Linked DNA regions of Homo sapiens. The protein of the gene in region 1 purifies or fractionates together with the protein of each later gene. This does not show direct contact. Each region holds a gene or a part of one and is shown in the gene's direction. Other genes may lie near its edges. The genes, in order: NDP, GALNT18, ZNG1A, TMEM67, PLXNA2, ATRN and LRP1B.

Region 1 (4,048 bases):
TAAATTTATTAATGAATAACAAATAGTTTGATACAGAGTTGAACAAGACAGTTTCAGCATCAACAATTACATGAAGCTCCCAAGAAAAATTTCTTTTTGAGTTTTATAATGTATTATTTTTTCCACGAAATATATATATTTTAAATTCTCAGTTTAATTCTTCATCAGTAGTATTAATAAAACAAATTATTCTGGGTCTGATTTACCTGACATAAAATAATTATTAAATGTTCTTTGTATTTTCCTCCAAAATCCCTGACGGTTTTCTGTGTTAATTTTAAGCTTTCAAAGGGCAAGAATTATGAAATATTTGCCTTTGTAGTCCCACAGCTCATAACACAGCATGATTCAGCTGCAGGTATTTAACCCACACACATAGTTACCTTTGTCACTTTTCTACTAGTTGTTGTGTAATGGGTTAGCTTTATCTATTAGTTTCTCCTTCATATAGCTCAAGGAGTCAAGGAATACACGTTCTCATTGTTTCTAAATCAGACCTAAAGTTTTATTCTAAATGATGCAGATGAAGGGGCTTATTAAAGTGCCATTGTGAATTTAATCATGTATATGCTGCTAAAAATCATTTAATGGATGAACAACCCGGAAAAAAAGAACTCTCACCACCCACACACATCGTGATAAAATAGGGCAGCGTTTTGCACTTGCTTTAACAGCATCGCCTGAGAAAAAAATTTCTGGTTCCCATCTTTCCCCTCTCTTACTTAAAATTTCAACTTCATCACAGTCAGCTGCCGAATCGTTCAACAGAATGCCACACTGCCTTTGTATTTCCAAAACTATACGTCTCTATTGCGGACGGCACATCTTTATGGCAGCCACATGCTTGAAAAAGAATTAAATTCAGAATATTCATTTGGCCTCTTATTAGTTCCATAATACCATTAAAAAAGAAAGAAAGAAAGAAACTTCCTCGCCCTTGTTCTGCTACGCTGTTCCCATCGTAAGATGCTCCGTGGAAGGGAGCCGAGCGGTGGGCAGAGGCTGAGTCCCCGATAACGAGCGCCTCACATTTCCGTGGCATTCCCATTTGCTAGTGCGCTGCTGCGGCCGCACGCCTGATTGATATATGACTGCAATGGCACTTTTCCATTTGACATTCTCTCTCTCTCTCTCCCTCTCTCTCTCTCCCTCTCTCTCTCCCTCTCTCTCTCTCCCTGTGTCGCTTAAACAACAGTCCTAACTTTTGTGTGTTGCAAATATAAAAGGCAAGCCATGTGACAGAGGGACAGAAGAACAAAAGCATTTGGAAGTAACAGGACCTCTTTCTAGCTCTCAGAAAAGTCTGAGAAGAAAGGAGCCCTGCGTTCCCCTAAGGTAAGCAGGAAAACAAGCGCTGCCGGCTTGCCTAGGAAATCGCTTCTTTCCAAACCGAGCATTTCATCCTCCTCTCAGACAAAGAGACAACCTTTAAATACCACTTAAATTTGCATTACTTTAATTTGCATTAATCTGTAGCATGCTAGCATTGTGTTTCTTAAATGAACGGGTCTTTGAAGTCTGTGACAGAGCAGGGAGCCTCCTAGAAAAGCTTGAAAATATCTTTTGGTTTGACTTAAAGAGATTTTTCTTTTCAAACTCTCTGCGTAGTTAGATGTAACTTTGTGATGGTTCTTATAGTTGACCCCGTGAAAGGGGGCTGCGAAGCAGCAACTTGCCAACATGGATTCATGGAGCCCAGTATCTTCCCCAGCACCCTCATCCCACTTACAATGGGGGCACTATTAACGCAGGCAAGACTGCGAGTTTAAAAGCGCACTGTTTACTTTTATTACTACTTATGTATGCTGCTGATCTCCTGCCAGGGCTCTGCCGGAGTGCTCAGAATGACTTCAAACAATAGGCAACATTTATTTCTAGCTTTCTGTGTCACGCTTTGCAGGAATCCTGCTCCCTTGCACTCTTCTTTCAGCGTGCAGGTCTTCGCTTCCATAGATGCATTGGGGAGCACCGGGAGGAGATGAGGATGGATTTACTGTATGATTTTGATTGGGCAAAAAGTCCGAGGAAATGCATGCTGTTTGCCTTGGACTTATTGCAGGGGGTTATTTTTAGTCATCAGCTCGTCCCTGCAGCATGATGTTCAAGGAGTGACCGGGAAAGGATGCTCCCACCAGCACAGAGACCAGGACCTGTAGGAATGACTCCTACCTGCGGGATATTCCGAGGTTTCTTTCAAACTTTGGAATACAAGTTCTCTCTTTAAATGAACAATTGAGCTGTAGGAGGCCTGGGCATAACTCTTTCTTGGGGGACGGGAAGTTTGATTGTGTACAGAATGTTAATGACTCAGAACGCCCAGTAACTGAGGCTCATTGTAATAGACAAACCCAGATAAGCCTCCATGAGAGGCAGACTCCCATCTTTACTGAGATTCAGGTGCGGGAAAGGAAGCTATTTGGCAAGATGGGAGTCCCTTGTACAGTTCTTTGTAACTCATTAATAACAGATATGGCTGCTGTGAAACATGTCTCTTTTCATTTCTAATATTAGTGTATTTTAATTACAAGGAGCTGGCATTGGCAAATTACCCCAACACATAAGATTAAATACCAGGTGCATTTGAAAACAGAGAGATGACTGAAATGGGGAGTTGCTGTGGGTGTCAACCAAATACAGCGGGGACGGCACAATGCTTCTCAACTGAGCGTTTAAACCAGATGCAAATATCTGCTCATTTTCTTCTCATCAGTCTTACTAATTCAAGGAAACTTTATGGTCCTGTTTGCCAGTTTTCATTGCAAATTGGTACACAGTTTATGCAAAACTTTTCTGATTTTCTCTGATAACCAGCCCAATAAGCATCGCTGAATGAAAATCTGATATTTGAATAGGTTAATTTACAACTTTGGGGTATTCATTAGTCAAGAAAGCCATAAAAGACACTATGGATTCCATTGCTGTAAAATTTTATTGTAATTTTTTTTTAAAAAAACTGCGGTTAGCAAAGCATTTAGCTGAATCAAAACAATTTTCTTAGACTATTATTCAGATCATTACATGAGAGTATTTGAACACAAAATGCAATGTTTTGCATCATTTATTTTAAAATACATTTGGTTCAGGTAACGGGAGAACTGGCTGAGGCCTTCTTACGACTGTGTACCAAGCAGCTGACACCCACAGATGGAAATGTGCCTGTGGAGTTTTCAATCTTAATTCGAGTTCCAATGACACTGTCAAGGGAAAAATAAATCATTTTTCAATACATTTAACAATTTCCAACTCATTTATTTTCCTGGGCCCTTGAAAAATGTGGTGAGTTTCTTGGAATTATAGCCACCAATGGTGGCCAGCAATCTTTATTTTAAGAACTCACAATTCAAGTACTATTATTCTCTGGTTAATTATTTATTTCATCAATTTTTAAATAAATATTTATTAAGCATTTTCTAGATGCCCAGTGCTATGCTAGTCCCGATGGATGCAAAGGTGAATGAGACATTGTCCCATACTCTAATTCTCAGTCCATATGCCATCTCTAGTTAGATTTTGGAACTGAAATGGGCATTGCCAATGGGTAAAGTGGGCAATAACTTTCCTGTTATAAAGAATTATTTAAAACAGCTACTGGTTTCTAGATTTACTTGAAATGATTCTCACTCATCAGTGGGTTTTCTTTCCATTTATGATTAAGGGATTCCCCTTTGGCCTTTTTCACCAGATCCTGGGTACACGTCATTTGCACAGCTAACACGGCTAGATCTTTCCAGCCTGGGTAGAAGAATCCCGGAAAAAGACAGTAGTTTATCCTTTCTCTGCTCTCCTGAGCACCCTGTGGAAAGGACCATATGCTGTCTCTATTGGGGATGGGTGTGAGTCGCCTACTCAGTAGCTAACATCAGGGCCACTTGATGAATCATCGAATTAGAAACATGCATATGGAGGAAGATGCAGTCACTATCCCTCACCACTTACTTGTCCCACCCCCAGTATCAAAACAAATGACCTCTGGGCCTGGCCTAAATTCAAGAGGCCCCTGGGAAGAAGCTGTTGGAAACTCTTCCCCAAACCCAGGTCTCCATCATAG
Region 2 (3,500 bases), on another chromosome or scaffold:
TCCATCAGAGGAGATGGGCAGGCCTTCCTTCCTCTTTCTGCTGGGGAAGGACCTTCAGGAGATGCTACTCTGGATTTTTCCACCTTGGAAATGGTTACCCTCTCTGGCTGTCTCCTCTCTGCCCAGGGCTGAACCTGTACTCACCCGCATCAAGGAGAACCGGAAGCGGATCATCTCGCCATCCTTTGATAACATCAAATATGACAACTTTGAGATAGAAGAGTACCCGCTGGCTGCCCAGGGCTTTGACTGGGAGCTGTGGTGCCGCTACCTAAATCCCCCCAAGGCCTGGTGGAAGCTGGAGAACTCCACAGCGCCAATCAGGTAAAGCAAACCTTTACCTGTGGGTCTCTCCGCTTTGACCTCCAGGCTAGGGACCGCCTACTGGTCCAATGCTTATTCTCCAACTTGAGCCCCATCGTGGGGATGACAGGGGTGGGCAGGGTCGAAAGGAACTGCAGTCTGATCTTCAGTCACTGCCACAGGCTCTGAAGATCTCAGAATCCATTCACAGCCTCAAAGTGACCCATTTTCACACATCACTGTGAGACGTCTGCTGGGCGCCAACCACTGTGCTCCAGGTTGGGGATCCGGAGTGATGAAGATTTGGTTCCCACTGCCAAAAGCCTGGAGTCTAGTGAAGACAGACAAAATCATTGGAATAGGAACATTATTCTACCATGCAGGCAGAAACTGCATTGAAAGCGGGGAAATGCTTTTCAGAGGGCAGCATTTTCACTTGTTTTTGAAGGCGAGTAGAAGATGGCTAGGTTGGGGAATGGACACCCATATGCAAAGTTCATGAACACAGAGAAGGTTCAAAGTCACTAGAAGTGGGAAGTGAGCCAGCAGCCCCCGGCAGTAGGGGTGGAGGGGCTGAGAGGCAAGATCGGACCCCACAGGACAGTGTATACCTTGATGATATTTGAGTGTTATTCTGTAAGACTCAGACAAAAGTGACTTCATACTGCATTTCAAAGGTCCCAAGTTCTTTCCTGCCTTTGCTGCCATCTTCCTAGACTCATGAATGACTCCCTTGTGTGGTCTCGGCTTTTAAGGTTCAGGACTCCTCCAAAAGCTGTCCCCACTAGTTTTTATTTCTGTCTGTGTTTGTTTTTGTTTTTGAGACGGAGTCTCACTCTGTCACCCAGGCTGGAGGGCAATGGCGTGATCTCGGCTCAATGAAACCTCTGGCCCCTGGGTTCAAGTGATTCTCCTGCCTCAGCCTCCCAAGTAGGTGGGATAACAGGCACCTGCCACTGCACCTGGCTGATTTTTGTATTTTTTACTAGGGACAGGGTTTCATCATGTTGGCCAGGCTGGTCTTGAACTCCTGACCTCGTGATCTACCCGCCTCGGCCTCCCAAAGTGCTGGGATTACAGGCATGAGCCACTGCGCCTGGCCTATTTCTGTCTATATTGATGATACGGTGGGTGTCTTTATGTTCCCTGCGAAGTCCTGCCCGTTATAAAACAGAAGGCACCAGAAGGTGGCCTAGGGTACAGTTTTTGGAGTGCAAGAGATTAGAAGCTCATGTTGTTTTATATTATATTAGGGAGAAAGGGTATGAAAAATTTAATTGAAAGTCAGGGATTATTACTTAAGATCACATTTTTCCTTGCCAGAAGAAAAAATGTATACTCATACTTAAAACGGGATAAAACCACCTAACTTTCCTGAAGTTACCTGATACCTACTCTGCTCGGCCCCTGCCACAATTTTGTGTTGTTAAACATTTGCTGACAGTCTGCTATGTACAAGGGTCTTTTACACGCATTGGCTCATTTGATCATCATCGCAACCTGTTGACCGCTCATGTCTCATCCCTGTTTTACAAGAGGAGGAGAGCAAGACTGAGAGAGGTGAATGGCCCTGCCAAAGGCTCTGGGCGGTAGAGCCAGGATCCACCCAGAGAAGCTAGACTCAGTGGCTAGTTTTCACCCCTCTTATTGTCCACTGTTGAGCTCAGAACTGGTGTAGCTGTTTTCTGCTCCCAGGCCTGATGAATGCTGTTGGAAGGAAATATGCCCCCATGCAATGAGCATTCCTGCAGAAGACTGCATTGACAGTAACTGTTTCTGTTCTGCTCATCTCTAACTGTACTGGTCCAGTCTCAATCAGCAAGCCTGCATTCCAGGTCCTTGCCAGACAATGTCATCTCAACCTCAAATTTTCTATCACCCAATTTTTATCAAAAACTTGGTTGAGGGAAATAACTTCTATGGAAGATTTTTGGAAGAACATTCCTGGTTTTATTCCCAGATGAAGACAGCTCCACAGAAAGCTGTGATTTATACAAATGTATCTTGCCCATCCGAGCTCCCTTTTCTTTCAAGCTATACTTGAGTGCTTTGCCCACACATGGTGTAAGTCATAAAAAGAGCCCAGCAATATCTTCTGGTGTATTCTAAAGGGATGTCTTTGTGATCGCTGTTCCCTAAGTCGCCAGGTGACCCCATTAAGAAAATCCACGTGAGAAATTTCTTTCAAACTGACTGCCAGTCAAAGAAAGACTTGCTATCCCCAGGGAATCAATTAATATGACATTTTCACATGAGAACTGTACATTTTGTTTCTAAGACCATGTGTGTTCATTTCCACTTTGACCAACAGGAAACTCAAAGGCAAGCTTTCATGTCTGCTTTAAGAACAATTGAGAGAGGACCTTGGTTCTGCACATGCATTCCAATTTGTTGCAATCTTTAGGTCTGTCCAGACATTTATCTATTTATGGTTCTCTATGTATTTTAAATTTTCTCATAAGCTATTTCTAATCCTTTCAGGAATGAGGCAAGGTGTAAATCGATAACTCTTTCATGCTGATAGAATCCACTTAATACCCTAGCCGGTTAATAATAAACCACTGAGGTGGCCTGTGCTCATCTCAGAGTAACTGTTTCAGATTCTGTTCATTACCTGGCTTGAACTGTCAGTTTGAGGAAGGTCCCTTCCTGTGTGTCCTGAAAGCATTTTTCCAGCGTGCCCTGCCCTGTCCAACACTAGGAATGCAGAGGCAAATGCCAAGGCCCCACTCTGCCAGCCTGATGTTTCTGAATCATCACGTATTTAAAGAGAGGATCTTCTAGACTTAGTGCACAATTGCATCTTTTTACCTTTTTAAATGGCCTTTTGAGTGCCAGTTATGTCCCAGAGGCTCTCAAGTGCTTTAATTTAGTCCGTGTGAGGTTAGAATAGATCCTATGTTACAGATATGGAATCGGAGGCTCAGAGAGGCTAGGGAACTTCTCTTAGAGACATGCATCCGGAAGGGGGATTTTTCCCAGAGAGACTACCTCGAAGGCCTGGGTTCAGTTACCTCCACCACAGCAGGGTCTCAGTCTGCTTTAGGAGTGGTGGATTAGCTTCCCAGGATGCCTGCAGGTCTGTGAGGGTGAAGCCATTTAGAATAAAATGCAGTGATTTGAAAGGAAGAGAAACAGTGGCTCCAGGGTGTCAGTCTCTGCCCCAGAAGTCTCCTGTATCTGCATTCCCCAGGGAA
Region 3 (3,500 bases), on another chromosome or scaffold:
GGGAGAAAAGCACCCTGATTTGAGAGCCACTGATCAATTTTGTTCATTCATCTTTACTCCCCCTAAATACCTACATCCAAATTTTAAATAGATCTTTCTCATGTAGTCTGGCAAGTATTATATCAAAGATAAATACCAGTTTTAGAATAAAGCATTAATATACTCTTACATTTCAACTTAAGAGGCAAATATTAACAGTAGGATTTGTAAACTATTTATTGGAATAAAAATCAATGAATTTTTAAAAATTACAAAATGATTTATGTATGTTAGATATTTTACTGAGTGAAAAAATTCATGCTTTTTTAAATGACTTATTGTTTGGAGTAGTGATACAGTAGATTTAATTTCCCCCCTCATTAATTAAAATCATGTTTTAGCCAAGAAAGTGAACAAAATTCTTATTGGCAATTCAGTTGTTTCCCGTTTTGGAGACTGACACGCTCCAGTTCTAAGTTAAATAATTGTCATGGTAAAGTAATTTCCTTGAAAAGAACAGACATTGATTCAGCCCCTGTTACTCACAAATCCTATTTGAGTCAAATTGGAAAACTATTAAGTTTTTGGGAAAAAAATCAATAGGTATCAGGAAACCATTAGATCTTGTGGCCCTTGCTATATCTTGCATGAGTAATCACTGTAAACAGCTGACAGGTATTTCATTGTTGACACCGAGTGATGCTTGGGGGACCACATCTTGGCAGAGTAGGTGGACAGCTTTAGACGCTGGAATGAGTTTGATTATCCTTGTTTTTCTCCTACACTCATTCTTTTAGACAGCCCTGTCACTAACTGGGCCTGTGATGCTTTCAAAAATCAAATACTTTCCTTGCTGTCAGTTTTCTTTTTCTTGCGTTGTGGCATACTAATCAGGGTATGTGGTTTGGTACTGAACCAATTTCTGTCAAAAGCAAGTTTTAATTTATTATTTAGGAAAAATTTTTCCTAAGACCCAGGTTTTATACAGTACTAAATAAATAGTGTGAGGAATAATTAGTAATGCCATAGAGTATATAATTTTACTTCTAGTTCTACACAGATTACAAGTAAATTTTTTTTGGGCAAGTGATTTTGGAATTATCTATGTTTTGTTTTCCTTTTCCTTTAGAGTGATAATTCACTATTTATGATTGAATGATTATCATATTAAAGAGGTGAGAAAATAAAAATAAGTCTGATGTGCACAAAGCCATACTGCTCAAATTGTTTGATAATATCTGTTAATTAAATTATTATGGCATCGGTAGAAGAATGATGTTTTGTTTATATGTGGTTAGAATTGGTCTTTTTTAAAGGAAATAACAAGAGAGATGGAAATGGAATGGGTATAAATAGTAAAAGGTTCTATCACTATAATTCCCTTTTGCTATAAATAGTTAAAGCTTCTATCACTATAATTTCCATAAGAAGATATATGTGTTTACCTGTTAATTTTATCAGGGCAAATTAAAACATGGATAGAATCATGTTTCTCAGTGTGAAGAAATATTTTTATTTGATGAATATTATATATTTTCAGGTGCAGTGGCTTCTATGTTTTGGGTTGATGCTGAATTAGGGAGTGATATTTATCTTGATGGTAAGTTAAAAAACAGTTTTCTTTTATCTTTCTTGTTTTTTTTTTTTTTTCTGAGACAGAGTCTCACTTTGTTGCCCAGACTGGAGTGCATGGAGTGCAGTGGCATGATCTCGGCTCACTGCAACCTTTACCTCCTGGGTTCAAGTGATTCTCTTGCCTCAGCCTCCCGAGTAGCTGGGACTACAGGCGTGCACCATCGTACCTGGCTAATTTTTGGATTTTTAGTAGAGACGGGGTTTCGCCATGTTGGCCTGACTGGTCTTGAACCCCTGACTTCAGGTGATCCGCCAGCCTCGGCCTCCCAAAGTGCTGGGATTACAGGCGTGAGCCACCACACCCTGCCTCTTTTGTTTTTTAGTAAAATCTTTATGGTTAAGCTTATTGTTGTTGTTCATTCATATTATAACTTTAATTCCTTGCATTGTTGTTCTTTTCACACTTTAGTTTAATGATGAAATCTTTGTTCATATAGATTAAAAAACCCCAGACAGTGGTGGAACTCGATGTCACTCAACTTCCAATTTAGTGCTTCCACTAAGGTTTTCTTTAAAAAAAAAAATGCTTTGTAGGTTTTCTGTATCCTCTGTTGTTTGATTTATGCCCTTAATATAATGTTAGAGCCTTTTATTTTAATCCTCCAGGCAATATGAGGATCATATTTTTGCTTTTATTTTCTCTTGAAGATAAGAATTAAACACTCCTGTCTTACTTTATTTACCTGAACACTTTTGGGCAATGATATGCCTTCATTTAAAATATATTAGAAACTTTCTTAGTTAAGCGACTATGTTTTCTCCCTTTCTCAGTCGAAATTTTCTTACTTTTTCAAAAGTAATAATCATTAAGAAATTTAAGAATTATTAAGCTGGGCCCCATCATTGAGCTCTAATATATGTGGCGGGTAACTGGTTGAATTCCTTAGGCATAATTAAACTCATTCTTTTGTTATCAGCATATATTCAGAGATTGCAAAATGAATTGGTAGTTTGGAAACTTAGGCATATGTTATGTAGAACATTTATGAGTTGGATTTGGATTTGGTGAGAGATGTTAGGAATGATACCTTAAGATGTCTCATTCTTTAGGCAATAATTTAAATCTTAAGAAAAGTCTTGATTTTGATTATGTGAAAATAAACTAGAAATAACCTGTCTTATGTACTTATCACATTTGACTATGTTATGAAATTTGACTTATATTTTGGATTGTAAGCTTTTTCAGTGCCAAGGAAATCTTATTTTCTTATTTATTTAATTTAAAATTTTTATTTGTTTTATATCGTTTCTAGTGCCTTAAAATAGTGCTAGCCACTCAGGAAATGCATTGACTTATTACTGGAATTTAATTAAATGGCAGCACTGGCAAGAGAAAAAAACAGTACATTGTTTTATTGAGTAGTATTTGTGAACTGAAATAGGTTAGTTTTAATTTTCATTTTGAAGTATGGTTGTACAAATATTAATAAACATTCTTTTTAAAAAGTGATTAAAATGTTTTTTCCTTTGTAGGTATCATAACTATTGTGGATTCAAAATATGGATTAAAAGTAAGTTGAAAGATTGCTATGAGTGGGTCATTATTGAGAGCTGGGAATATGGGGATTGATTGTTTAATTTTCTTTATGTTTGTATCTGAAATTTTCTTTAACAAAAACCTTTCTCAAAAAGATATCCTGAACAATAGGTGAAATTTGTGTTTTAATTATTAGTTTGTGTTAAATATTTCTTTTCTATTACTCTGAGTTTGATTTGGTGATAAAATTTGGAATTATAATTTGTAATAAGCATATGGGGTTAGGGTAGAGTTTGGTATGTATAACTCTTCACAAGGATTCAACCCCAATATTGGTAAGTTTTTCTGTTCCATAGAAGAAGCTGAGCTTGATAAAGCATCTGAGATCTTATTTTTCTTGTTAAATTAC
Region 4 (3,500 bases), on another chromosome or scaffold:
GCTTTGTCCAGACACAGAGACAAGGCTAAATGCTGCTTATTCATTTGGAACAACCTACCAACAAAATGTAAGTTTGAACGATATTAGTCTATATTTTAGCTTTATTTTTCAAAATATCATGTCAGCAGTAATTGGAATAATACTTAAATTTTTGAGATTGGAAATTTTTTATTCTTGGTTTTTTTTTTTTTTTTTTTGAGATGGAGTTTTGCTCTTGTTGCCCAGGCTGGAGTGCAGTGGTGCAATCTCAGTTCACCACAACCTCCGCCTCCCAGGTTCAAGTGATTCTCCTGCCTCAGCCTCCCGAGTAGCTGGAATTACAGACATGTGCCACCACGCCCAGCTAATTTTTTGTATTTTTAGTAAAGACAGGGTTTCTCCATGTTGATCAGGCTGATCTTGAACTCCCCACCTCAGATGATCTGCCCTCCTCAGCCTCCCGAAGTGCTGAGATTACAGGCATGAGCCACCGTGCCTGGCCGGAAATGTTTTTAATAGTGAAGAATAATTTCACTATTTAATATAATTTTTTATTACCTGGGTACATAAAAGCTTAATTTAAGTGGCATAAACAGAGCACCTTGTTATCTATAGAGTTTTTTGTTTTTTGAGACAGAGTCTCGCTCTGTTGCCCAGGCTGGAGTGCAGTGGTGCAATCTCAGCTCACTGCAATCTCTTGCCTCCTGGGTTCAAGCAATTCTCGTGCCTCAACCACCTGAGTAGCTGGGACAACAGGCATGTACCACCACACCCAGCTAATTCTTGTGTTTTGCATAGAGATGGGGTTTTGCTGTGTTGACCACGCTTGTCTCAAACTCCTGACCTCAACTGATCCACCAGCCTTGGCCTCCCAAAGTGCTGGGATTACAGGTGTGAGCCACCTCGTCCGGCCTAGAGTCTTAAACATCATATAATATTACATCTTCATAATAAATTGTTTATCTGCTTCTAGGCTTATAGGTCTTAAAAAGTAATGCTTACTTCTGAGCATTTTGAAATAAAGTAAAAATACTACTTTTTTTAAATGACTAATAAAAAGTTACTCCCTTCTTCTACCCGCTCATAACAAATAAAAATAATTCCTTCATCTTCTTCCATTCTTTTCTTTCTCCTTCCTTCTCTGACTTTCCTTACTTTGATACCTATTTTGAAATTACATTATTTTACTAAGGAATATTATGAGCCATTCAATACTTGAAAAACATGCATGTATTAGTCCGTTCTCACGCTGCTAATAAAAACACATCCGAGACTGGGTAATTTACAAAGGAAATAGGTTTAATTGACTCACAGTTCACTATGGCTGAGGAGGCCTCAGGAAACTTACAATCATGGTGGAAGGGAAGCAAACATGTCCTTTTTCACGTGGTGACAGGAAGAGAAGTACTGAGCAAAAGGGGGAGAAGCCCCTCATAAAACCATCAATCTCATGAGAACTCACTCACTATCATGAGAACAGCATGAGGGTAACTGCCCCTATGATTCAATTACCTCCCTCCGGGTCCTTCCCATGACACATGGGGATTATGGGAACTACAGTTCAAGATGAGATTTGGGTGGGGACACAGCCAAACCATATCAATTCATTAGTCTGTAAAAGTACATCTTGATAAAGTTCCACGCACAACCATAGAACAAAACCATAACAAAAAATACCATTATGGAAAGTAGATTGGAAGAATCTACTAACAGTGGTTACCTCTGGATAGTGGGGTTAGAAATTATTTTTTTCTTTTTTATAATTTCCAAATTTTCTACCATGAACATGAATTTACTTCTTTTGTCAGAAATGATTTACACGTTGTTGTTGCTGTTGTTGTTAAAATAAATGTTATTGTGCTTCTAACATAGGCCAGAAAGATCAACACTTATGTAATGCCTATCTGTGTGCTCAGCATTTTATCGTTATTATCCCATTTGATTCATAAAATAACTATATGAGATACATAGTATCTGTGCTTCACAGATGAGGAAATTATGCCGTGTAATTAGGTAATTTACTCAAAGACTTGTGTCACATAAACTGTGGAGCCAATGTTCTATCATCAGGTTTAAAAAGCATTTTTATTTCTTTGAACCTGGCTAACTCTCAAGTCCTTCATAGACTAGTGGGCAAAACAGTTATATAGACAAAGAATTGCAAAGAATGTGATAAGTGTCATTCTATAGGTATGTACAAGGTACTGATTCCTGGGGAAGTATAGAAAGGCTTCACAAAGTAAGTGATACTTGGATTTGTATAATGAATATGAGTTTTCCAGAAGAACACAGTGGGGAAGGAAATATCAGACAGAAATCACATTTGTAATGACAGAGAGACATACAGTAGTATGGCATATTTAGAAACTACAAGTAGATTAGTATGAATGGACCACCATAGACTGATAGGGAGTAATGAGAGATAAGCCTGGCTTGGTTAATGGAAGCCAGATCATATACATCATTGTACAGCAGGAGAAAAAATTGGGAATTTATCCCGTAGGACAGTAGTTTTAAACCTTTTCACTGATGTACCCTTAATATTGAGAATGAAGGTATACCTCCTTCATCTGAGTTGAAGCTCAAGAAGTTCTCAAAATTCTCAAAGCAGTACTTTACTGTTAGTGGTTTTGGTCCTTATAAAATAATCATAGTATTCATGTTTTGGAAGACAAATGAAAATGCATATAAACAAGGTAGTATAAAGACATTTTGCAAAACTAGAAAAACACTCTGAAGATAATAAATATGCTTGCTAATTTTCAATTGTGATCTTTTATTTTATTTTTTACTTTTTAGTACTTTAAGTTGCTGTTTTATGTGCTTTTATTTTTAATTTTACTTTTCAGTGTGAGATTCCTATCTCTAAGATCTTAATTGACTTTCCCACTCCTATATTTTATGATGTGTACCTTGAATATACTGATGAAAATCAACATCAATATATTTTGGCTGTGCCTGTGTTAAACCTAAATCTTCAACATAATAAGATATTTGTGAACCAAGGTAAGACATCCATACATACCACTCTTTTCCCTGAGCAGAAATCAACAAATAAGTTAACCTACATGATAATTTAATAAACCACTGATTATAAGAAAGGTCATGAATTCTCTCTTATGTGGTTCTATACAGTGTGCCAAAAAATGAAACAATAAATTGCTGGTGGACTTAGAAACTGTTGCTAATTTTATTGCCAGACATATTGTTAAGAAATTATACTGTTGCTGAGGGTATATCCTGAGAAACATTAGTAGAACCGTAAATTGGGGCTTTTTCGTCAAGCTGTCCCGAATATGCTTTTTTGGACAAATTAGTTTCTTTTGTTGTTATTCATGTTATAAAATTCTGCTTTTTCAGGTAATTTGCAGGGGAAAGCCTTCCAAATTTATGAAAAGTTCAATCAGAAGACATTCAAGTCCAAGGCACGGTGGCTCACGCCTATAATCGCAGCACTTTGGGAGGCCAAGACGAGAGAATTGCTTGAGCCTAGAAATTGAAGACCAACCTAGGCAACATAA
Region 5 (3,500 bases), on another chromosome or scaffold:
TGGATGAGCTCAGACCCTTGCTCGGATCTCAGCTGGAGTCCCAGCTCTGCCTCCTGCTAGCTCTGTGATTTCTGGCCAGTGTTGTAACCACTCTGTTGTTTAGTTTCCTCCTAGACAAAATGAGAAAAATAATTCCTATCTCACAGTCTCTTCCTCCCGGTGCCTCTAGAGCTGTGCTGTCCGGCACAGCGGCCCCTAGCCACAGGTAGCTGCTACAAATTAAAATGAAATAGAATGTAAAATCCAGCTCCTCCATTGCCCTAGCACCTAGCCGCTTTCTAAGTGCTTGGTTGCCACATTGCAGCTAGTGGCCACCATACGGGACCGCACAGATAGAGAACATTCCCATTATCGCAGAAGGTTCTATTGCGCAGCACTGAGCTAGGGATTTGGACAGCCTAGAAGGCCGTGCCTTCTGAGCTCAGCTTCCTGGATCTGAATCACAGCATCCACTACACATGCCCACTGCATTTTTCCTGGCAGGGGAGAGGGTTGGAGACCTCAGTATCCCCTGAGCCCACCCTCTCTAGAGGCCGTGGGGAGCCGGGCACAGCTTTGGAGTCCTCTGGGCAGCAGGGGCTGGAGGGCTGCACCTCCGTTCACCACCCCTCCTCTTTAGCCTTCCTCTAGCAAGGTCTCAGGCTTCCAGGCCCCACGTGGGGTGAGGAGGGAGGAAGAATGGCTTTGCTTTATGAGTACTGAGCCCCCATCCTGCCAATCTGAGCATTAGAAACTCTCATTAAGAACTGTTGTATTTAAATTAGAGCTAATCTCAAGCACAATGCAGGGAGAGGGTGCTGGGAGGAGCCACGGGAGAAAGCTACAATTTTTTCTGCCATTGTCACTCTCTCCCAGGCCCAGATTGCTGAGCAGCCCTGGCAAATGCCTGGGATTTACTGCAACCAGAGGATATAATTTGCACCACGTGCAGGGAGTTAAAATACCCCTCCGGCATCCCCTTCACTGAGGGTCTGTCACAGCCGCTTTGTTCCTTCCCAAATCCCCAGATCTGTAGCCCTGGGATGGGAAGGGGAGGGGGGCCAGCCCTTGCATGAGCAAATCCCCTGTTGGCAAAACACTTAAGCACTGCTCTCTACCTGAGGGCTGGGATCCAAGACCCCACATGACAGCAATAATGACAGCTAATGGATAGTGCTTAGCAGGTGCCAGGCACTTTTCTTAGCACTTTACAAATATTAACTCATTCAACCCTGACAACAACCACTGGGGTTGGATGTTATTATGACTGTCTCCATTTAGTGATAGGAATACTGAAACCAGAGAGGTTAAATGACTTGCCCAAGGTCACACAGCCAACGTATGGCAGAATCAGGATTTGAACCCAAGGAAGTCTAACCTTGAGTGTTTTTGGAGGGGAAGGGACCAGGCACCTTCCAGATAGGCAAAACAGGGTACTCACACATGCAAGAAAGCCCAGAGGGACTGGGAAACTCTCTAGTTATCACCCTGAGGCCAGAAGTGAGTTGGGAGAACCGGTTCTTTATAGCCCTGTGGGATAGTGAGGTGCCTTTATCCACAGACCCTGTCTCAGATGCAGCCAAAGTTCAGAGCACCACGGACCATCAGGGCTGAAAAGGCCAACCTCTCCATTTTCATAGGAAATTGAGGCCCAGAAAGAAGCCACCCCTACCCCCAGGTCACAGTCTAGTTACTGGGTGAGCTGGGCTGGGACCCAGGTGTCCTGACTCCCGCCCTGCGTTCTCCCATGCTCCATTGTTCTCTTGGGAGACCTCATGGCAAGCCCAGGCCCCACCACGGAGACCCCTCTGTGAAGGACTGCCCCTTACCCTTTGTCCCTTCCCCAGGACAGAGTCTGTGGCTGAAAAGATGCTGACCAATTGGTTCGCCTTCCTCCTGCACAAGTTCCTAAAGGTGAGAAAGGGAGTGAGACGGGGCCTAGCGTCCAGGGCAGGATGGCACTGCTGCTTAGATCCTGGCCACAGGGCTGCATGGGGACCCCCTCCCTCGGGAGCAGGAACCTGGACTGGCTGTGCTAAAGCCCTTCCTTCCACTGGCCTCGCTCCGAGAGAGGAAAGGGAAAACGTACAAACCTGAGGAGGCCGTGCCCACACCTCCTGCCCTGTCTGTGCCCACAGGAGTGCGCAGGGGAGCCACTCTTCATGCTATACTGTGCCATCAAGCAGCAGATGGAGAAGGGCCCCATTGATGCCATCACGGGCGAGGCCCGCTACTCCCTGAGCGAGGACAAGCTCATCCGGCAGCAGATCGAGTACAAGACCCTGGTGAGGAAGCCGGAAGCTCCGGGCCCGCCTGTGTATCTTCTACTTCTGCCCCTTGCTCTGCCTTCTGTCCATAAAAGCAGTCTAGGGGGTCAATAAAGAGGATGGGAGGCTGGTCTGGGGTGAGCCCAAAGGACAACTAAGTGTACCAAGAGCAAGGTGGCAGGCCCGCCCACCCATCCCAAGCACTCTATGCCTCGGTTTATCCTAGATAATATTGGGGGAGAAAAAAGTTCACCCATCATTAGTTATTGGGTAATTGGTATTATGAGAAAGATGTATGTTGGTTCCTAACATAGAGGCTTTGGGGAAGTGCATGACTAGTCTCTGATACATGTAGAGCCATCTCTAAACACTGAGGGTGCCTCATTCCAGGACTATAGTCTCCCCTAAGCTGTCCAGGAGCTAGAAAGTAGAGTCCTGGTGCTTTGAGAAAGAAGAATTGGACACAATGACTCAGACTCTCATTTGGCAGATGTTATGAAGGTGAGGGAAACTGAGTCACAGACCAGAAAAGTACCCTTATTTCCCCTATAAGGAGGGTGAACTTTGGAAAAAGAAGATTCTGAGGTCCTGACCCTCTCCCTCAAACTACTCCTTCAACTCCTGTCCTGCTCACCCTCTGTCCCCTACTTGTAGATCCTGAACTGCGTCAACCCTGACAACGAGAACAGTCCAGAGATCCCAGTGAAGGTGTTAAACTGTGACACCATCACACAGGTCAAGGAGAAGATTCTTGATGCCGTGTATAAGAATGTGCCCTATTCCCAGCGGCCGAGGGCAGTGGACATGGACTTGGGTAGGAAACCTGGACTCAGAGTGTGAGGGCAGGGGTTGAGAGGTGAAGGAAGGGAAGCTGCCATGCACACAACCCTTGCAGGGGCATGACTGTGTCCTGGCCAGCTGAGGCCCGTGTGAAATGCTTCCCGCTTTGAGCGCTGCCTGTTCAGATGTGGCTGTCTCTGGGGAGGTCTACGTGTTTCCTCTGCTGCCTGGGCCCATGGAGCCCTAGATGTCTCTAGCCTCTGTTATTGGTACCAGCTTGAGGGGGCCGGGTTGCCAGGTCCCTAGAGAAGGTGCAATCGGGAGACACTGGCTCACAGCCCTCATCCCTCTCACGCCGCTCCCTGCACCACCCCCTCCACCCAGAGTGGCGCCAAGGCCGGATCGCCCGGGTCGTGCTGCAAGATGAGGACATCACCACCAAGATTGAGGGTGACTGGAAGCGGCTCAACACAC
Region 6 (3,500 bases), on another chromosome or scaffold:
CCAGTTTAGGCTGATCTGCTTTCCCCAGTGCAATGTAAGTTCCATGAGGGCAGGGGCCTGGAGCATAGTTCACAAGTCCAGTTTAGGCTGATCTGCTTTCCCCAGTACAATGTAAGTTCCATGAGGGCAGGGGCCTGGAGCATAGTTCACAAGTCCAGTTTAGGCTGATCTGCTTTCCCCAGTGCAATGTAAGTTCCATGAGGGCAGGGGCCTGGAGCATAGTGAGCAGTAAATATCTGTTGAATGAAGGAATAAAATTCTGTAATTTACTTCTTATGACTTTTAAAAAAGTCGTCTTTACCCACATGACTGCCATATATGTCTTCTGTCCTTATATTGCTCCTGAACTTCTCTGTCATCCACTGTTTGGTGGGCATCTTTTATTGTCACCTCATACTGAATCATGTATAACACCAAACTTCTATCCTCATTGAAAAAAATAGTCTTTTTCTTTGTACTTCCTTATTTGTTTTAGCTAAATCCAAATTTAGCTAACCAAAGGTCAAAACTTAGCAGTAATCTTTGGCTCTTTCTACCTGTTTGTTTTTTTCTGCTCTCACACTGTATAAATTTGTTTCTTTCCATTTCTTCTGCTGCCATTCTAATGTACCTAACCCTTCACCTCATTGCTGACCTGCTTCTGTTGCACTTTTACTGTTTTCTTACACCTGCAGAGTCTGCTTCACACTTTGTCATATCAGTCTTCTAAAAAACATGTGTCTCTATGCACACGTATGTTTATTGCAGCACTATTCACAATAGCAAAGACTTGGAACCAACCACTGATGGGCTATCCAGCCCATCAGTGATAGACTGGATAAAGAAAATGTGGCACATATACACCGTGGAATACTGTGCAGCCATAAAAAATGGTGAGTTCATGTTCTTTGCAGGGACATGGATGAAGCTGGAAACCATCATTCTTAGCAAACTAACACAGGAACAGAAAACCAAACACCGCATGTTCTCACTCGTAAGTGGGAGCAGGGAGGGGAACATCACACACTGGGGCTTTCGGTGGGTAGGGGGATAGGGGAGGGATAGCATTAGGAGAAATAGCTAATGTAGAGTATGGGTTGATGGGTGCAGTAAACCACTGTGGCACGTGTATGTCTGTGTAACAAATCTGCACGTTCTGCACATATATCCCAGAACTTAAAGTGTAATAAAAAACAAAAACATGTGTCTCTTATTTTGCTTCTTTTATTACCTCTAAAATGATCCTCAGCAGAAGGATCCCATTCCTTTCACATCCCTTTTTTTCCTAACCAAATCTTTCTACTTCGTAGTTTTTCTGTGTTTGCTAAATTCAGCACCTCCCTCCTCACTGCTCCCCCATTCTTTCTTTTCATCTCTACTTACCAAGGCCCACCTTCAGTTCTCTATAATCTATAATTCATACCCTTTTTTTTTTTTTTTTTTTTGAGAGACAAGGTCTTATTCTGTCATCTAGGCTGGAGGGCAGTGCTCCTGGGCTCAAGTGATCCTGCCACCTCAGCCTCCCAAGTGGCTGGGATCACAGGCCAGTGTGCCCAGCCAATTTTTAAATTTTTTGTAGAGATGAGGTCTCACTATGTTGCCCAGGCCAATCTGGAACTCCTGTCCCCAAGAGATCATCTCGTCTTGACCTCCCAAAGTGCTGGGATTACAGGCATGAGCCACTGCACCTGACCCCTATTATCTTCTTTTGAAATGAGTCATCTGCTAATTCACTTCATAAATATCTGCTGAATATTGTGTGTTAGGTACTGTGCCCTTCCTTGAGGATATGAAGGTGTGTAAGAATCAGGCCTTGCTTTCCCCTAAGAGAAGTTATAACTATGAAGGGAAGACAGCTACGTACACAGCAATTAGAATTTCATAATAAAAATACAGGCAATATGTGGTGCTGGACTAAGATGTGATTGACTTAACTCTTTTGGGGGTTCTGGTGGAAGACATCACAGAAGAGAGGACATTTGGGCAGGTCTGAGAGGTTTAGTGTGAGTAGACCATCTGGGGGAGAAAGACATTCCAGAAGGAATGAAGAGTTGATGTGCAAAGGCAAAGAATTATGGATTATCATACTTAGTGTATTAATTTCCAAGGGCTGTTACAGTGAAGTGCCACAAACTCATGGCATAAAACAACAGAAATTTATTCTTTCATAGTTCTGGGGACTAGAAGCCTGCAATCAAGGTACTGGCAGGGCCACGATCTCTCTGAAGACTCTCAGGGAGGATCTGTTCCATGCCTTTCTCTTCGCTTCTGGAGTTGCCAGCAGTCCTTGGCATTTTGGCTTGTAGATGCATCACTTCAGCCTCTGCCTCCGTCCCTTCAATCTCATGTGATACTCTCCCTCCCTTTGTGTCTCTGTCTTTTCTCTTAAGGGTACCAGTCATAGTGGATGAACGAGTATGACATCATCGTAACTTTGTTGCATCTGCCAAGACCCTGTTTCCAAATAAGGTCACATTCACAGGGACCCAGGGTTAGGACTTTGACATATCTTTTTGGGGAACACAGTACAACCCACAGCACCTGGAGAACTGAATGTAGGTGCCTGTTGTTGGAACATAACTTGTGAGGGGTGTAATGGAAGGAAGGGGGTGAGGTTGTAAGGTTATAATGGCCTCTTTTTGTCCCTTCCCAACAATCTCCAGCTTCTGGGTTTATGCTTGACCTAGGATAAGCCCTCAGGGCATTCCAGTTTCTGGCCGTGCTGATTGTTTTGAAATGGGTTTATGATTGATTTTAATGGACTCAATCAGAGTGAATCTCAGGACTTTTGTCGGAGATCCCTTTCCTCTGTGGGCGTTTAGAAGGACATGTGTTGCCTTCTTTTCTGTGTGGCGAGGCCATAATGCCTAGAACTGTTAAGAGTTAGCGTTGCTGCTGTAAGGAATTCACCTCAGGTCAGAACAACTCCCAGAAGATGGAGGATGGCAGAGAAATGGAGCCGGAGACCTGATAACTTTCTGAATCTCTGGATCAAAACTTGCCTGAAGGTGTAGTTTTTGGTTTGTGAAGTACTGCAGTCCATGTTTTTCTTAAGCCGGTTAGAGTTGGATTTCCTTCCACTTACAGTAGAACAATTCCTAACATACAGAGGGAGGGAGGTAGAGCCAGCTGACTAGGGTTAGTCAGTTAGGGCTTCTGTAACAAATTACCATAGACTTTACCTCGATGAAAGGTTCCCAAGATGGGCAGATGCTTTTTATTTACCGCAGTATAGAGGACAGGTATGTACGCAGGAGAAAAAGGAGAGTGTGTGTTTATGATCAGAACAGTTTTGATCATATAAATGTGATTAAGTGATTTAATACATTTGTAGGTTATTTTTATCTTAAGAAATACAGAAGTGAGTACCTAGTGTTATGATTGAACAGAAATCTTACACTGGTTTTTCTTGTTAATACAATCATATTTCCAAAACTGAAATGAAACTATAGTTGTACTTTTTGAAATACTTGTGTCTGGAAATTGGCCATTAACTTACTATGATACTTGTTTCCCACTTA
Region 7 (3,500 bases), on another chromosome or scaffold:
AGGAAACATCTTTGTAACTCTTAACAGCCAAAATTGGAAGATAAATCAGATTCACTTAGAATCAACTAATTTGTCATATAACAATGTCATATCATATCAAAGTATTGCTTGATAAGGATTAAAACTTAAAAGGAAGTATATCTTAAAGTGTCAAATTTTCTGAAAAGGGATTGAGAGGCCTAATGCTAGTCTGTGTTAAATTCTCGAGTATGATACAATGTGGAGACACATTTCCAAATAATTAAAGTTCATGCTGTTATAGTCATTTTAATGTATCTGTATAGAAAACCATCAAACAATGGCAATTAAATGTATATCAAAATTTTAATCTCCCCTCAAAGAAGAATGAACTGCGATTTATGTCTCTTCATATGCCACAAATAACATTAAAGTTTTGTTTTGAAGAGGTTGCTAATCTTTGAATTTGTTCTCTTTCTCTCTTCTCAAGCTCAAATTTAAACTGAGTGAGAGAGAAAAGAGAAAATGGAAAAGGTAAAGAAAGAATTTAAATGTGCTAAAACAATAAGAAAGAATGTGAATTGCAGAAAACAGAATTCAGGAGGAAAAATGGAGTTAAGAGAAAGCTGAAGATAAATTTAGGAAAAAGATGAATGGATGGATGGATGGATGGATGGATGGATGGATGGATTCTGCCATACATCAGAATCTGAATCAGTATTTCTTGAATAGGTTAAAATATCTTTAGACAAAATAATTTCTTAAAATGTTTTTATCTCATTATTAAAAACATTATATGAAAATATTTACAGTATAAAAATAATTTAAGGAAAGTGCCACCAGTGTGAATCTGAATATAATTAGACCTCTAAGAATGGAGAGAGACATGAGAATATTGCAGAAAAATTAAATATTAACTGTGCTAGAATTACAAATATGGAAGTGATTTTTTAAAAATGTAAGTGAAGGTAAAGGAAATTTTCTTAGAAAGGGTGCTAGATGAGTGATATGGTTAATGTATTCTTAGGACTTAGATGACACTTTCTAAATGCTGCTTGTTTTTCAAGGTGGAGGTATGCAGAAATACTTAGTTTGCAAATCTATTGGATCCAGGACATTAGTTTCTTGCCAGTTACCTTGTCAATTTCTTTTCTCAGCCCAGGGGATACCATAAAAATCAGCTCCATTTAAAGTCACCTGAACTGAACAGGACTTGGTCTTCTACAAGGATTATGATGTTGAGGGAACTTTATGTCTTTTCTCCATTCTATATATGGATCCAGTTTTTTATGTTTCTGCCATTAATTTTTGTATCTTAATGTGAAATGTGCAACTCTCCCTCCCTTTCCTTCAGCATTTTCCTGGTTATAGGAATTCTGTGTAGTAAAAAGTACCAATCAAACATACTGATAGATTTCTCTATCTTCTGTGGCTGTCTGTCAAAACAATTCTTGTACAAAGGAAACACTTGTCTTCATTCTAGATAGATGCATTCAAAGAAAGTAGAATTAATCCTAAAAGTTAAACATGCCTGTGCCAACATGATATCATTCGTCAAACTAAGTTAGTAGTAAGTGGAACCCAACTATACAATTGCCCCCAACCCCGTTTTTAATCTCTCTCTGTGTGTGTTTATGTGTGTCTGTATATCTGCTTTAAAATGGCTTTCCTTGGCACAAACGCCATTAAAAATACCACTCTGGCTTGAAAATTGGTGATGGTTTTTATGAATGAAACTTTTGCTTTTGAAAACTCCAGATAAACATGTCTATTTATCTGGACAAAAAAAAAAGTGAAATGAAAAAAATTTTAAGTTATTTTTTGACTCATAGCATATAATATTCTAATACATTTCGATATAACAAGTATTTTGTTTTAACAGAATCTGACTGTGTGGCAGAAACACGTGTCAAAATTATCTGCTTTTGAAATGAATATAATTATGGTATACCCAATGCTTATAATTTGAAGCAATACATTTAGTAGCAGAATGCTAAAGAAAATAAAGCCAAAGACTGAGTTCCATTATGAATTAATCAGAATATATGCTCAGCCAAACTCCTATGAGAAAATATCTATGTCTACCTTAGATAGTTTTAAAACTTTTCTTAAATTTCTTCAAGAAACCTGGCTTCCCCCATATAATCCAAGAATAATGACCAAAACTATCTTGATGCATAGAAAGGTCAAATAAGAAGGTTTTTCTTTTGGTTTTGGCAGAGGAGGGGGGAGAGTAGGGAAAATTAGCTAATCAAACAGAAAAATGTCAAGGGATGCTTTTTATTTTCTTCTGTGGAGTTGCTATACATTTTCACATGGATAGCTATTCCCAAATTTAACCTGTGTCACAAACCATTGTCTAGAGACATAGAAATGAAATTGCAACAGAGCAATCACAAATTGTATAGTCTATAGGCCTTGGGAACATTCTCCAGTTATTTTATTTTGGATGGAGATTTTTAAAACTTATTAGTTTTTTGGGATAAAATATTATTTAAACAGTAAATAAGACAAAAAATGAAAATATCTCTAAAAATAATTTGAGTTTTTAAAAGTTGGTTTTTGGACTAATTTCCATATGTGAGTTCCACTGGCACAGAATGAGTGTCTTTACCTCACTCACTCAATTTTGAAAAGTATTATACTTGCAATAGTATTGAATCTCTGTTCTGGCTCTTCAGTCCTCTCTCATTTGAATAACATGTCAATCTCACCAAGTACATATGAACCCTCTATTTTAGAGAAAGGAGAATGAAGGATTCAGGAGATTCTGCCATTCAGCACAACAAGTAAGCTTACATCTTCCAAATGTATATGCTGTTTTTTTTCTGTTTGTCTTCTATAATCTGCCCTCACAATTTTAAATCTATATTTTCCTCTTCATAAATGATCAGATGGCCTCCCTTTTTCCCCTGGCATAATTACAAGGCCAAGTTAGAAAGTATGTATTATGTATTGCTCTGTTCTAAATTGAGTGATATTAAAATGTAGAGTCAGTCTCACTCTCTCCATCTCTCTTTCTCTCCATCCTTTCTATTTAGGCTATCTCTATACAAGCCCACATATTTTGACTGAGCTCCCTGACTAAACCAATTGATGAAACTGACTAGTAACTAAATGGAAATCAAAACTATTAAATAATAGCCATACATCCTGTAAAAAAAAAAAGTAAGACTGGTCTTGCAGGAAAAGCCTAAATTGAGATTCTATGAAGAAACAATAACAACAACATATTTCCCTGAAAGAATTATGCAACATATTTCTAGTTTGCAGAGCAAATCATATGTGCTTTTGCTGTTGTGTCTCTCATACTAGGCAAATGAAATATTTTTGGTAGTAACTACATATTTATATAATGGGGTATTATACAAGTTTAAAACACTATTAGAAAATAAATAAGTATTCTGAATTCATTTGTACTCAAAGAGAATTTACTATATTGAAAGTGGAAATTTATTATTTTTCTTTTTGTCTTTACTTTTTAACTGAATTTGTATTTCTCCATTTTGTGAAACATTAAAAAAAACTTAAATATATTCCAA

The links.
Region 2: the proteins of NDP (region 1) and GALNT18 purify together in Homo sapiens (affinity purification with mass spectrometry; one large-scale study listed by BioGRID and IntAct). This does not show direct contact.
Region 3: the proteins of NDP (region 1) and ZNG1A purify together in Homo sapiens (affinity purification with mass spectrometry; one large-scale study listed by BioGRID and IntAct). This does not show direct contact.
Region 4: the proteins of NDP (region 1) and TMEM67 purify together in Homo sapiens (affinity purification with mass spectrometry; one large-scale study listed by BioGRID and IntAct). This does not show direct contact.
Region 5: the proteins of NDP (region 1) and PLXNA2 purify together in Homo sapiens (affinity purification with mass spectrometry; one large-scale study listed by BioGRID and IntAct). This does not show direct contact.
Region 6: the proteins of NDP (region 1) and ATRN purify together in Homo sapiens (affinity purification with mass spectrometry; one large-scale study listed by BioGRID and IntAct). This does not show direct contact.
Region 7: the proteins of NDP (region 1) and LRP1B purify together in Homo sapiens (affinity purification with mass spectrometry; one large-scale study listed by BioGRID and IntAct). This does not show direct contact.

Annotation. Positions count from the first base shown.
Region 1 is NC_000023.11:43,970,591-43,974,638, reverse strand, and holds the start of NDP (norrin precursor), read left to right. Parts: upstream 1-1,248; 5' UTR 1,249-1,335; intron 1,336-3,086; exon of another isoform or gene 3,087-3,194; intron 3,195-4,048. UniProt on the Homo sapiens protein: Activates the canonical Wnt signaling pathway through FZD4 and LRP5 coreceptor.
Region 2 is NC_000011.10:11,374,006-11,377,505, reverse strand, and holds part of GALNT18 (polypeptide N-acetylgalactosaminyltransferase 18), read left to right. Parts: intron 1-126; coding exon 127-324; intron 325-3,500. UniProt on the Homo sapiens protein: Catalyzes the initial reaction in O-linked oligosaccharide biosynthesis, the transfer of an N-acetyl-D-galactosamine (GalNAc) residue from UDP-GalNAc to a serine or threonine residue on the protein receptor.
Region 3 is NC_000009.12:162,057-165,556, reverse strand, and holds part of ZNG1A (zinc-regulated GTPase metalloprotein activator 1A), read left to right. Parts: intron 1-1,108; exon of another isoform or gene 1,109-1,154; intron 1,155-1,519; coding exon 1,520-1,579; intron 1,580-3,087; coding exon 3,088-3,125; intron 3,126-3,500. UniProt on the Homo sapiens protein: Zinc chaperone that directly transfers zinc cofactor to target metalloproteins, thereby activating them.
Region 4 is NC_000008.11:93,782,394-93,785,893, forward strand, and holds part of TMEM67 (meckelin isoform 1 precursor), read left to right. Parts: intron 1-1; coding exon 2-67; intron 68-2,828; coding exon 2,829-2,985; intron 2,986-3,500. UniProt on the Homo sapiens protein: Required for ciliary structure and function. Part of the tectonic-like complex which is required for tissue-specific ciliogenesis and may regulate ciliary membrane composition.
Region 5 is NC_000001.11:208,038,385-208,041,884, reverse strand, and holds part of PLXNA2 (plexin-A2 precursor), read left to right. Parts: intron 1-1,826; coding exon 1,827-1,893; intron 1,894-2,117; coding exon 2,118-2,264; intron 2,265-2,900; coding exon 2,901-3,060; intron 3,061-3,410; coding exon 3,411-3,500. UniProt on the Homo sapiens protein: Coreceptor for SEMA3A and SEMA6A. Necessary for signaling by SEMA6A and class 3 semaphorins and subsequent remodeling of the cytoskeleton. Plays a role in axon guidance, invasive growth and cell migration.
Region 6 is NC_000020.11:3,477,518-3,481,017, forward strand, and holds part of ATRN (attractin isoform 1 preproprotein), read left to right. Parts: intron 1-3,500. UniProt on the Homo sapiens protein: Involved in the initial immune cell clustering during inflammatory response and may regulate chemotactic activity of chemokines. May play a role in melanocortin signaling pathways that regulate energy homeostasis and hair color.
Region 7 is NC_000002.12:142,124,517-142,128,016, reverse strand, and holds part of LRP1B (low-density lipoprotein receptor-related protein 1B precursor), read left to right. Parts: intron 1-3,500. UniProt on the Homo sapiens protein: Potential cell surface proteins that bind and internalize ligands in the process of receptor-mediated endocytosis.